Linked DNA regions of Homo sapiens: region 1 is linked to region 2. The links come from fine-mapping of genetic effects on plasma protein levels. Region 2 holds a variant in brackets. A gene starts in the other region. All regions are shown on their forward strands.

What was found. PIP is the chance, under the fine-mapping model, that this variant and not a neighbour inherited with it causes the effect. The UK Biobank Pharma Proteomics Project read protein levels with antibody pairs (Olink). The fine-mapping took linkage between variants from a reference panel, not from the people measured, so its PIPs are less certain.
Region 1: it holds the start of QPCT, and the variant in region 2 is fine-mapped to the plasma level of the QPCT protein (UK Biobank, PIP above 0.99).

The regions. Positions count from the first base shown.
Region 1 is chr2:37,340,309-37,345,751 of GRCh38, forward strand. It overlaps QPCT (glutaminyl-peptide cyclotransferase), which reads left to right and starts at 4,322. Exons shown (of 7, transcript NM_012413.4): 1 at 4,322-4,543. The coding sequence starts at 4,424. It overlaps LOC124907754 (a long non-coding RNA gene), which reads right to left and starts at 4,747. Exons shown (of 2, transcript XR_007086284.1): 1 at 3,419-4,747; 2 at 1-419. RefSeq lists a silencer at 4,693-4,752.
Region 2 is chr11:65,787,234-65,792,233 of GRCh38, forward strand. OVOL1 (ovo like transcriptional repressor 1) reads left to right here. Exons shown (of 4, transcript NM_004561.4): 1 at 1-240. The coding sequence starts at 141. It overlaps LOC124902693, which reads right to left. Exons shown (of 7, transcript XM_047427980.1): 6 at 3,529-3,851; 7 at 1,768-2,204. It overlaps OVOL1-AS1 (OVOL1 antisense RNA 1), which reads right to left and starts at 3,635. Exons shown (of 2, transcript NR_108085.1): 1 at 3,529-3,635; 2 at 1,768-2,204. RefSeq lists enhancers at 4,285-4,444, 4,625-4,784. The variant A/G (reference allele first, on the strand shown) is at 820.

The sequences.
Region 1 (5,443 bases), not on the chromosome of region 2:
TGGAGTGCAGTGGTGTGATCTCTGCTCACTGCAAACTCTGTTTCCCAGGTTCAAGTGATTCTCCTTCCTCAGTCTCTGGAGTAGCTGTGACTACAGGCACCTGCCACCATTCCCAGCTAATTTTTGTATTTTTAGTAGAGATGGGGGTTTTATCCTGTTGGCCAGGCTGGTCTTGAACTCCTAACCTCAAGTGATCCACCTGCTTTGTCCTCCCAAAATGTTGGGATTACAGATGTGAGCCACTGCGGCCCACTATACTTCTGAAACAACGGTACAAATGCTTTTCTTTGAGACAATTGCCCTTTGGTGTGCAGCAGAAGTGTTTGATTTCTACGTCTTATTTTCCCATGTGAGTATAAAGAGCTGCATACTCTCAATTTGTGCTTCCAGTTAAGATGGAACTGGATTTGTCATCCCACCTAAAATATATTAAAAATGACATTCACAATGGATTGGATAAAGAAAACGTCACACACACACACACACACACACACACACACACGCACACACACACACACACCCTGGAATACTACCAGCAATTAAAAATAACAAAATTTTGTCTTTTGTAACAACATGGATGGAACTGGAGGCCATTATCTTTAGTGAAACAGCTCAACTAGCACATGTTCTCACTTATAAGTGGAAGCTAAATAATGTGTACACAATGACATGAAGAGCTGAATAATAGACATTGGAGACTTGGAAGGGTGGGAGGGTAGGAGGGATGAGAAATTACCTGATGGGTAAATGTATACTATGTTTTCAGGTGATGCTTACACTAAAAGCCCAGACTTGTCCACTATGCAGTATATCCATGTACCAAAACTGCTCCTGTACTCTCTAAGTGTATAAAAATTTTTAAAATGATGCTTAAATATTGGAAAAGAGGTATCACAGGAAAGTGGTGAGAAAAGGGAAAATGAAATGAGATGAGCCTGATGTTTTCTCCAGCTTACTGCTTTGAGAGTTTCCAGGATGCAGTGCAGGTAGGAGGAGTCCACACAGAGCTGGTGGTCTCCATGAGATGAAAACGCAGACGTGAGGAGCTCTCTCTCCTCCTGTACTCTGTCCTGCTAGATTTAAAATCTAGCTTCATGGAGAGACAGCTTCAGAAGGCAGTAAAACAACAATTTTATTACTTCATCAATGACATTCTTAAGTGAAACTGGCTCTTTTTCTTTTCTTTTATCGTCCTCTTCTTTTTTTTTTTCTTTATGCGTGGCAGTGAAAAATACTAAGATGGCTGGGTATGGTGGCTTACGTCTGCAATCCCAGCACTTTGGGAGGCCGAGGCAGGTAGATCACCTGAGGTCAGGAGTTCGAGACCAGTCTGACCAACATGGTGAAACCCTGTCTCTACTAAAAATACAAAAATTAGCAGGGTATGGTGGTGCATGCCTGTAATCCCATCTCCTCAGGAGGCTGAGATAGGAGAATCGCTTGAACCTGGGAGGCAGAGGTTGTAGTGAGCCGAGATGGCACCATGGCACTCTAGCCTGGGAAATAAGAGTGAAACTCCTTCCAAAAAGAAAGAAAGAAAGAAAAACACAATGACTACAAGTATAGATTTTCCTCCTCAATAGTACAGTTTTGTGTCCTGTATTGACAGTTGCTAAGGTGCCAGCATTTTTACCCATCATTGCTTTTGCAACATCAGTGCAAAGTCTATACAGTAGAAAAAATGAATCTTGTTTTGGTATTATTATAAAAGTTGATTTGACTTTGGAGACAGCCAAGAGGGTCTTGGGGAATCCCCAGTATCCATGGACCACACTTTTGAAAACTATTGTTTTAATAGAACCTTCTGGTCATTACTACTTTGATCTAATGGCGCCACTTTAAAGGTGGGACTGGGTGTAGGAACATCCTGCCATGGCAGCTTCATGGAGAAGATCTGTTTTGGCAATTGGGTCCTTCATTTCCTTCACATCACAGTATGGAATCTATACTATAATGGAGGTAAAAATTTCTCCACTTGAGAACAGTGTTATCACTGTATATACAACACATTTTTTCCATGATGAAAAACAGGGTCTGAAACTTTAATTAAAATGGAAAAGTCATTAGTTATCTTCCATGGGAAGAGTTTGAAGAAAGGAAAAGTTGAAGTAGGGCAAAAATAGCAGATATAAGGTATTTCTAAACGTTTCCCAAATGAAGGAAGAGAGAAAAGAATGAGCGAAGGAAAGGAAAAGGGTATTTAGTGTGTAAGACACTAGAAAAGATATGCATAAGGAATGAAGTGATACATACATAGTGGTGTTGGATTTGTAGATTCTTGGAAAGTTGGCAGAAAAGCTTACATGTAAAAAAAAAACCAATGTATTGAAATCAGTCTCACTAGCTATGTGGAATGTTTTAGATTTGTACCAGATACAATACGTTTGTGGTGGATACAGGAGATGCGCTGCCCAGATCTGCCCCCAGGGAAGGACCCTGCTCCAGCTGTTGGAGGCCGGCTGGCCCACAGCCTCTAGCAGTCAAGCTCTTTTGGCTGGAAAGCCGCTTGCAGGAAATCACTCCATGGAGGTGCAGAGATAAGGCCCCAGACATTTTGGCCCAGTATGGGACAACTTTGACCGTCTTTTTCAGCTTCAGGACTCCCATGGAGTTGGGTGAGGTTGTTGGGCCCGCTTTGCTGCTAACTTCTCCCTCTGTTCTCTCCTGTTCCCCTTCTTCCTCCCACAGGGGTTTGTCCCAAGGGCACTCCCTAATACACATCCTGCATGTTAAACTCTTGTCTCAGAGTCTGCTTCCTGTAGATACCAAACTGTAAGAACATCTTATTGACTTAAATATAACCAAAATTGGAGAAACTTAGGAAACAAAATCATCATTACGTTATGTGCTGACATTTTAGCTTATTTCTATATTTCTTGTTTTGAATTGCTCATACTTAGCATGATAGTACCTCTCACATTTTGTTTCATTTAGGTTTGCTATTTCCACGTTCTCTTTCTTATAGGAACCATATTGTGAAAAGACATAAAGGTAATAGGGTAAAAAAAAGCAAATAGGCTCTTTATTACCCAGCCACTCAGGAAATGCACTATTTCAAGGTTGACCCAGGCAGCAAGAGAGGAGCTGTATTGGGGAATGTGACAGTGGTTTAGTTCTGAAACTGGAGCCAGTAGAAAGTTCTGAAGGGGGTCCGATGATCAGAACTGTCTGTGGGTTTAATAAAGGTGTATTTAATTTTATTTAAGCCTGGAGATTTAAATTGTCACTCAAAACTCTCAGACATGAATAGGGTTAGCAAATCTGTACACCAGGAAAGGAGTTATTTACATCCTGTCTTCTCCTACAGCTCCAGAGGAGGGCAGAACAGTGTATTTCCAGGCAAGCCCTCTCTTTAAAAACTCATAGCCAAGGCTGGGAAGACAGAGTGAGTGGGTGGGCCTTCTGGCAGCTTCCTTACCTTCAAATCTTTGCTCTCTGTGAAATGGTTCTGCTTCAGTATCCTTGTTCTGATTTTTCTGGGAACTAGATGTTACTGGGAGATGACTCAGAGCAGGCCAAGCCCTGATCCTCACTGTGGAAGCAAAAGAGGCTGGTGAAAGTCACTGTCCTGACAACTTGGACCAGAAACCTACAGACAAAACTGAAATGTTTTCCTGCCCTAGGATTATCTGGATAACAATGACCTTTGATGTTACAAAGTAAATAGAATTGTGTTTGGCTTTTCCTTTTGGGGCCATGCCTTGGAGAAGATGACTCCTTCAGAGCCGCTGTGAATATTGTAGATCTCATTATTTCAGATAATTACTTTGACCATCCTTTTCAATTTGAGAGTATGATGTGAGGCAAGGCAACTATTTGTGAGAAAAAAGAGAAAAGGCAAAGATCCACTGTCATACTTTTGCTTGTGGGTTCCAGTCCAGGCTTTCTATGGGGGGTGGGGGGGTGTCTCAGTCTCCCCGTCTGTAAAATGGGATTAGTGGATTAAATCCGGGAAGGTTGGACAAGCACCTAGGACGGTGCCTGGTGCCGTGTTCAGCAGACGTCGATTCCCTGTCCACCCCTTCTTTAGGAGCTGTGGGAAACACTTCATAACTCCCCAGGGTCTGGTGAACCCTTCCTCCCTTTTCTGTTCCCTGTTTTGGCATTGGAGATCATAAAAAGGCTCTTCCATGTCTCTTGCTTCCTTCCTTTCATCTTCTCCAAGAGAAGGAAGTGGCCGCCTTTGTTAGCTTGGGTTCAGAAGCTTGTGTCTGTCACCCAGGGCCGCCCAGCCCCGGGGTTTGCGAAGGTCCGGGGTAGGAGGGCTGCAGCCTGCGCGACGCGGCGGGAGGCTACCCGGGGGCGATGGGAAGGCGGGCGCAGTCGACCCAAGGGTGGAGAAGAGGGAAGGCGAAGGACGCGCGTTCCCGGGCTCGTGACCGCCAGCGGCCCGGGGAACCCGCTCCCAGACAGACTCGGAGAGATGGCAGGCGGAAGACACCGGCGCGTCGTGGGCACCCTCCACCTGCTGCTGCTGGTGGCCGCCCTGCCCTGGGCATCCAGGGGGGTCAGTCCGAGTGCCTCAGCCTGGCCAGAGGAGAAGGTGAGGGGCTGTTTCTGCGTAGTTGTACTTGAGCGGCTCTGGTCCGATGCGAGGACCCCTGGCCGGGTCAGCCCTACCTAGGCAGAGCGGGAGGCGGGGCAGGGCCACGGTCCCCAGCCCAGGCACCGGCGCCCCACCCGGCGCCCGGAGGAGTCGGGGCTCTGCATACTCGCCGGGGTGCCTCGGCCAGTCCGGGGCTGTTCTGGAGACGCCAGGGGGGCTGGGTGATGTCACTGGCCTCTCCTGGGCTGCGGTCTGATGGGGGTGCTGATAGGCACAGGAAATGTGTCTCGCCGGCGGCTGCTGAGCCGGGAGGCGAGGGCGCATCGCGGCGCCACCCCCCACTCGGGACCCTGGAGGGCAACGGGGCCGGCGCTCCGGGGCCGCTAGGGTGCGGGGTGCGCCTGGGGGTGTGCCCACAGCCCCCCCGCTGCTTCATCCAAGGATGCTGCTGGGGCGCTGAAGTGTCCCTACAGTCTCAGGACGGATGTGTGTTGTTTGTTTTAGATTTTTAAAAGGAGCAACTCGGCAGGAAGGACCTTTACTGGAGACCTGCTTACTTCAAAAGCCTTTTTCCTCCACTTAAAAGAGGGTACCTGCTATTTTCAGAGAAAATGGATCTAGTTGTAGGTAGAAATCGCATATAAGGAACTTAGGATAAAAGTGATTTGCAAGTTCCCTCTGTAAGAAGTGTATGGGTTCGGCCGGGCGGGGTGGCTCACGCCTGTAATCCCAGCACTTTGGGAGGCCGAGGCGGGTGGATCACGAGGTCAGGAGATCGAGACCATCAGGGCTAACATGGTGAAACCCTGTCTCTACTAAAAAATACAAAAAATCAGCCGGGCGTGGTGGCACGCACCTGTAATCCCAGCTACTCGGGAGGCTGAGGCAGGAGAATGG
Region 2 (5,000 bases):
TCCCCGGAACGTGGGGGCGCCTTAGCGACTCCTTCCCTGTTGTGCCCCCGTTCCCGGCGTTCAGCCCGGCCCCGCAAAGGTGGGACGGCTCCCGGCTTCAGTTACGGAAGCGGCCCGTGTCCAGCGACGAGGGTTCGAAAATGCCCCGCGCGTTCCTGGTGAAGAAGCCGTGCGTCTCCACGTGCAAGAGGAACTGGAGCGAGCTCCCCGACGAGGAGCGCGGCGAGATCTACGTGCCAGGTGAGGCTCCAACCGCCCTCCGGCCTGGGGCACCCGCGGCGGCGTCGAGGCTGCGGGCGGGCGGGCGGGCGCAGGTCCGCGGAGCCAGGCGGCAGGCGCGGTGTGGGCGCCGGGGCTGAATGCGGCCGCGGCCTGGGCTGGGTGGGCCCGCGGCTCTCGACCCGGGACTCGGGGGGCGGGGGCGGGGCCGGCGGAAGAGCGCTGGTCGGGGCGGGGGCTGCATGGTGGAAGGGGAGCCGCTCCCAGGGCCAGGGGGCGCGGAACCGCCTACCCCCACCCCCTGAACCGCGGCACAGAGGAGGCAGCGGGGTGTGTCACCGCTCAGGCGACCCTCGGCTCCGACGTCGTAAATCCAGAAAACCGGGACTCGCATGAGGCGGGAGAAGGCACTGGAGCGATGCCACTTTGGGGGGCGGGGAGCGGGCTGGAGTTTCGGCCGAGATTTGTGTTAAAAGCTCAGAGCTTCAGCCGCTCGCACAGGTCCTTCCTCCTCCCCCACAACACTGGTGGCCGGGTCGGAGTGAGGGTCGGGCCGGTGGGGGGCGTGGGCCCCCAAATTTTCGTTGGGCTCCGGCTGCT[A/G]GTCCCGCGCAGTGAGCCGAGACGGTGGGACAGGCGCCCGCTGCGCCCCGCTTGCCCTTAAAGCAGAGGTGGGATCGGGTCTCACCTCTGCTAGAAACGCACTTCCTTCACCTTGCGGAGGGCACAATTGCATGGAAAGCAGCTGCAGGGAGCCCACCCCACAGCGGAGGGCCAGGCCCGGGGAAGCTGGTGTACCCAGTTATTTTTGGCAGACGCCTAGACAGCGTCGACTGTGAGAGTTGCTTCTTCCTCCAGCGGCATCTTCCCCTGAACGCCCCAAGAACACTCCTACCCCTTCTGTCCTCCCCCACCCCCAACAAAGTCTTTGGTCTGGAGAAAGCCTGCTTCCTTCCGAACGCCCCCTCCCCAGGCCTTGGGGGCGGGGCGTGGACGCTCTGAACGCCCAGCCCAGCCCCTCCGAGGGGGGAGGGGAGGAGTAATTAACCAACTGACTTTGACCCTTGATCTGCAGACTCCCTGGCACCGCCCCAGGCCTTGTAGGAAAGTGGGGAAATGAGGGCAGCAGTGAGGGGCCCCGTGAGGGCTCTTGCTCAGTTTCCCTCCTGAATAAGCTGTTGGAGACAGTGTCCTGGTGAGGTCTTTGTGGCCTGACCTTCCAGGACCCAGTGGCCTGTGGCGCTGGCAGGATGTTTCACAGCTTAACCTGATCTCAAGGGGACCCCTCTTCCACCGTTCCTTAAAACAAGGGAATGTGCCAGAAGACCCTGGTAACCCCAGTGGGGAAACTGAGGCAAAAAGGGAAGTGAGTGGCCTCCCCACCTGAGGCAGATTAGGGTGTGGGCTCAGAATTCTGTGTATAGCTTCTTGCTTGGCCACACTCCCTGGTGAGCTGGCTGGTTCTCTACCTGGGGGTTGGTGGGGGCACGCAGAGGGCCAGAGCCCCCTCCCCGCTCCGCCCTCCGCCCTCCACCCTCACCTGTGTTTGACTTGCTGCTTAGCTGCTCCTTGGGATCTGATAAACTGAACTTGGACCGTGGTAAAGGTGAGCTGAGCCCTGAGCCAGGCTCAGTGTGCTGTTATTTTTAGTTTTATTTCACATCCCAATCAGTAACAGATCATGTGTTGATTTTTACAAAGGACAAAGAAATTCCGTTGGTTGAAATCATTGACTTCTTTTTGTCCTAGCTATTTTCTCTGCCACACTTCCAGTGGCCACAGTGGAAGTGGCAGGGGAGACGTATGCCCCAGGGGCTTCCTGTCAGGTGCAGGAGAGGGCCTCTGGGTGGTCCAGGCCACCCGCTGGCACCATCCAGGTGAGGGAGACCTGCCGGCTTCTCTGTAGGCTCCTCCAGGATGTGTGGCGGGAGTCCAATCTCAAGGATGAAGGGAGAATTTGTCCTCATCCCCATGGCAAGGAGAGAATCCTGTGGGTCAAGTAAAGGGTAGAAGATAGAGAACTTAATTTTACCTCTGAAAGTCATGTGGCCCACTGGAGAGTTTTCCCACAGTTTTTGGCAATGAGAAAGGGACTGTCCTCAGTCCACGCTCGGGTGCCTCAGATGGCTGGAGAGTGGGGGTGCGTTTTGTGCTGGCCTGTCCCCTGGCTGGGCCATTCCATCACCAGCCAACCATGACCCCAGAGCCAGCTGGGCACGTTTCCGTTCACCTCACAGATTCCTGGTAAGTTGTGACCAGCTAAGCGTTGACCCCATTTCCAGTGGAGGGCCCAGGAATGTGGGAGTGTTTGAGTTCTGACCTTCCTGCCAGGTTCCTCTGAGACCCTCAAAGCCTCCCAGAAGGTTTTGGGAGAAGGTTTTACAGGCCAGAGACACTGGTCCCCAGCCCGACAGCACTGATTCCAGGGCCCCAGTTTGACAATCCCATCAGCCTCTCTCCCCAAGGCAGAATTCTAGAGCTTCTTACTCCCGGGGCAGAATCTTTCCCCTGGGAAGAGGTGAAGATGGTTGCAAGCACCCTGGAGATTTGAAAGGATTACTGGCTAGGAAGCCACCTTGAACCGCTCCCCCACCCACCCCCCCAACCACCCTCCCCTCGCCTTCCTTTGTTATGTCAATATTGACTTGGAGTGACAGGGAGTAATGCTGGTTCCTTGAGGATAAACCTAGGCACCTGTACCCAGGGGGTAAATTCTACCTCCTGGACCCACCAGGGAAGGGCTCCAGGAACAGGGTTGAAGCTGGTTCCCCCGAGCCCCACCCCATGCTGAGTGAAATCTCCAGGCCAGGAAAGGACCTGAGGACAGACTGAGGCTGGAAGCTGGAGTCAAGGAGCATCCCAGGGCCTCTCCCAGGCCTCCCACCACTGCTTCCCAGCCTCCCCTCTGTCACTGGGCTGGCCACAGTCTGCTCTGCCACTCGCCTGGTGGACACTCGAGCTCAGGGAGGCCAGCAGGCTGGGCGGTGGGACACTGGAGCTTCCTTCAAGGAATGTGGTCCAGCCTGGCTCTACCACTAGGTAGTGTGGGCACTTGGGCAGATCTCTTTCCAGCTGGTCAGGAAAGCTGAGAGTGAGCTTTGGGGCCCAAGGATGTGTCGGGAGTGAGGATAGTGAGAGCTCCGGCCTCTGATGGGATGGTTACCCTGTAGTCATTCCTGGGCCGTGTTTGGCAGCGAAGGAGATGTTTGCTGTGCTTGCCAGGGAGCGGGGCTGGGAGAGTGGACAGCCACACAGTGGACAGAGACAGAAGAGCAGCATGGGCCTGGGCAGCCAGCTAGATGAGACTCCTACCTGTCCCCTGGGATCCTGTCACCCAGGCTGCTAGGCTGTCTGTGCTGAGCTTGGGTGTCCCGAGGCGGAAACCTGGCAGATGATTTGTCTCAGAAAGAACAGGTGAGGGCGAGTCCTTTGGCTGCAGGGAGGATGGCGAGGGAAGCTGGCCATGGGTGAAGTCGGGGCTCCTTTGTATCATCGGCCATTTCAACAAGTCCTGGATGGAGTCCCACAGAGGCACTGGGCCTGTGCCTGGCTGGGTGGGGGCTGCAACAGGAAGCACTGCTCCCACTGTTCTGGGCGGGCACCCTGGCGCGAGGGCCGAGGCACAGTTTTAACTTCTTTGTGGATACCCAGTGAAAAGCGGTTGGGAAAGAGGGAAAATACACTGTCTGAGGCGACCTGTGGCAGTTCACAGCGTGGAAACAGAAGGCCAAGAGACTGGCCCATGCGTTACCGGGCCGGCCTGCCTCTGGCTGGTGCTGGGTCCTTTTGGATGATTGCTAGCTGACCTATGGGGACCAGAGGAGATGGGCACGGGGGGCACCAGCCCTTCCTGATAAGGGTGCAAGGCTGCTGAGAACCAGCTGCACTGTGCTGACATGCTGGGCCCCCGTCTCACCTTCAGAACTGGGCTGACCCCCATGTTCTGGGGCAGCACCCATGTGGTCAGTGGGGCCCAGGAGGGGGTCATCCTTGCATCTGCTTCACTTACTCTCCCCAGAGAGCCAGGGACAGGCCTCATGCCCAGCCCTGTCCTGAGGCCTTGGATGGGGGGACCCGGCACTTTCCCCAACATCTGGGCCAGCAGCTTTCCATCCAAGAGATGGAGGACTTACAGAGGCCAAGGCAGGAGACAGGCCTCGATGGGCAGCTGCCCTGGACACAGTCCCTCGGTGTCCGTGCCTCTGCTCTGAGCCTGGCCCTCAACATTGTCCAGGTAGAGGCAAGTAGGGCCAGCAGGAGGGGACCCATAAGCCCCCAGGCAGTAGGAAGAGGGCCAAGCTAGTTTGGCCTTGCCATACTCCACAGCTGTGGGCGGGTGATGAGTAGTCATAGCGCCACCGCCTTGCCGGAAACATCTAATTAGGGACAGAGAGCACCACAAGCAGGGCCCAACCAGTTCTGCTTCCTGCCTCCTGCCACTCAGCGACACTCAGTGCCAGGTGGCACGCCAGTGTGCACTCCCTGTGCGTGTGGCCGCAGAAGGGACACGCTCATGGGGGTGGCAGGGAGACAGGTTTGGCAGGGTGGGTGGGATGAGGCAAACATCCCCACCCTGGCAGCGGGTGGCCGCCCATCCAGCCTCCTCTGCCCCTCGCTCAGGGTGGAGGTGGACCAGAGAGCCAAAGCAGGCAGGCCCACTCCCTGGCCCCGGTCTCCCAGCACCAGCTCAGCCAGGTTTGTGTGGAACAGCAGAGGTGGGCAAAGGACACAGGTCTCCTCCCAAATGCATGGATCTCAGGACCCTAACCATGAGCCTCCCCTCT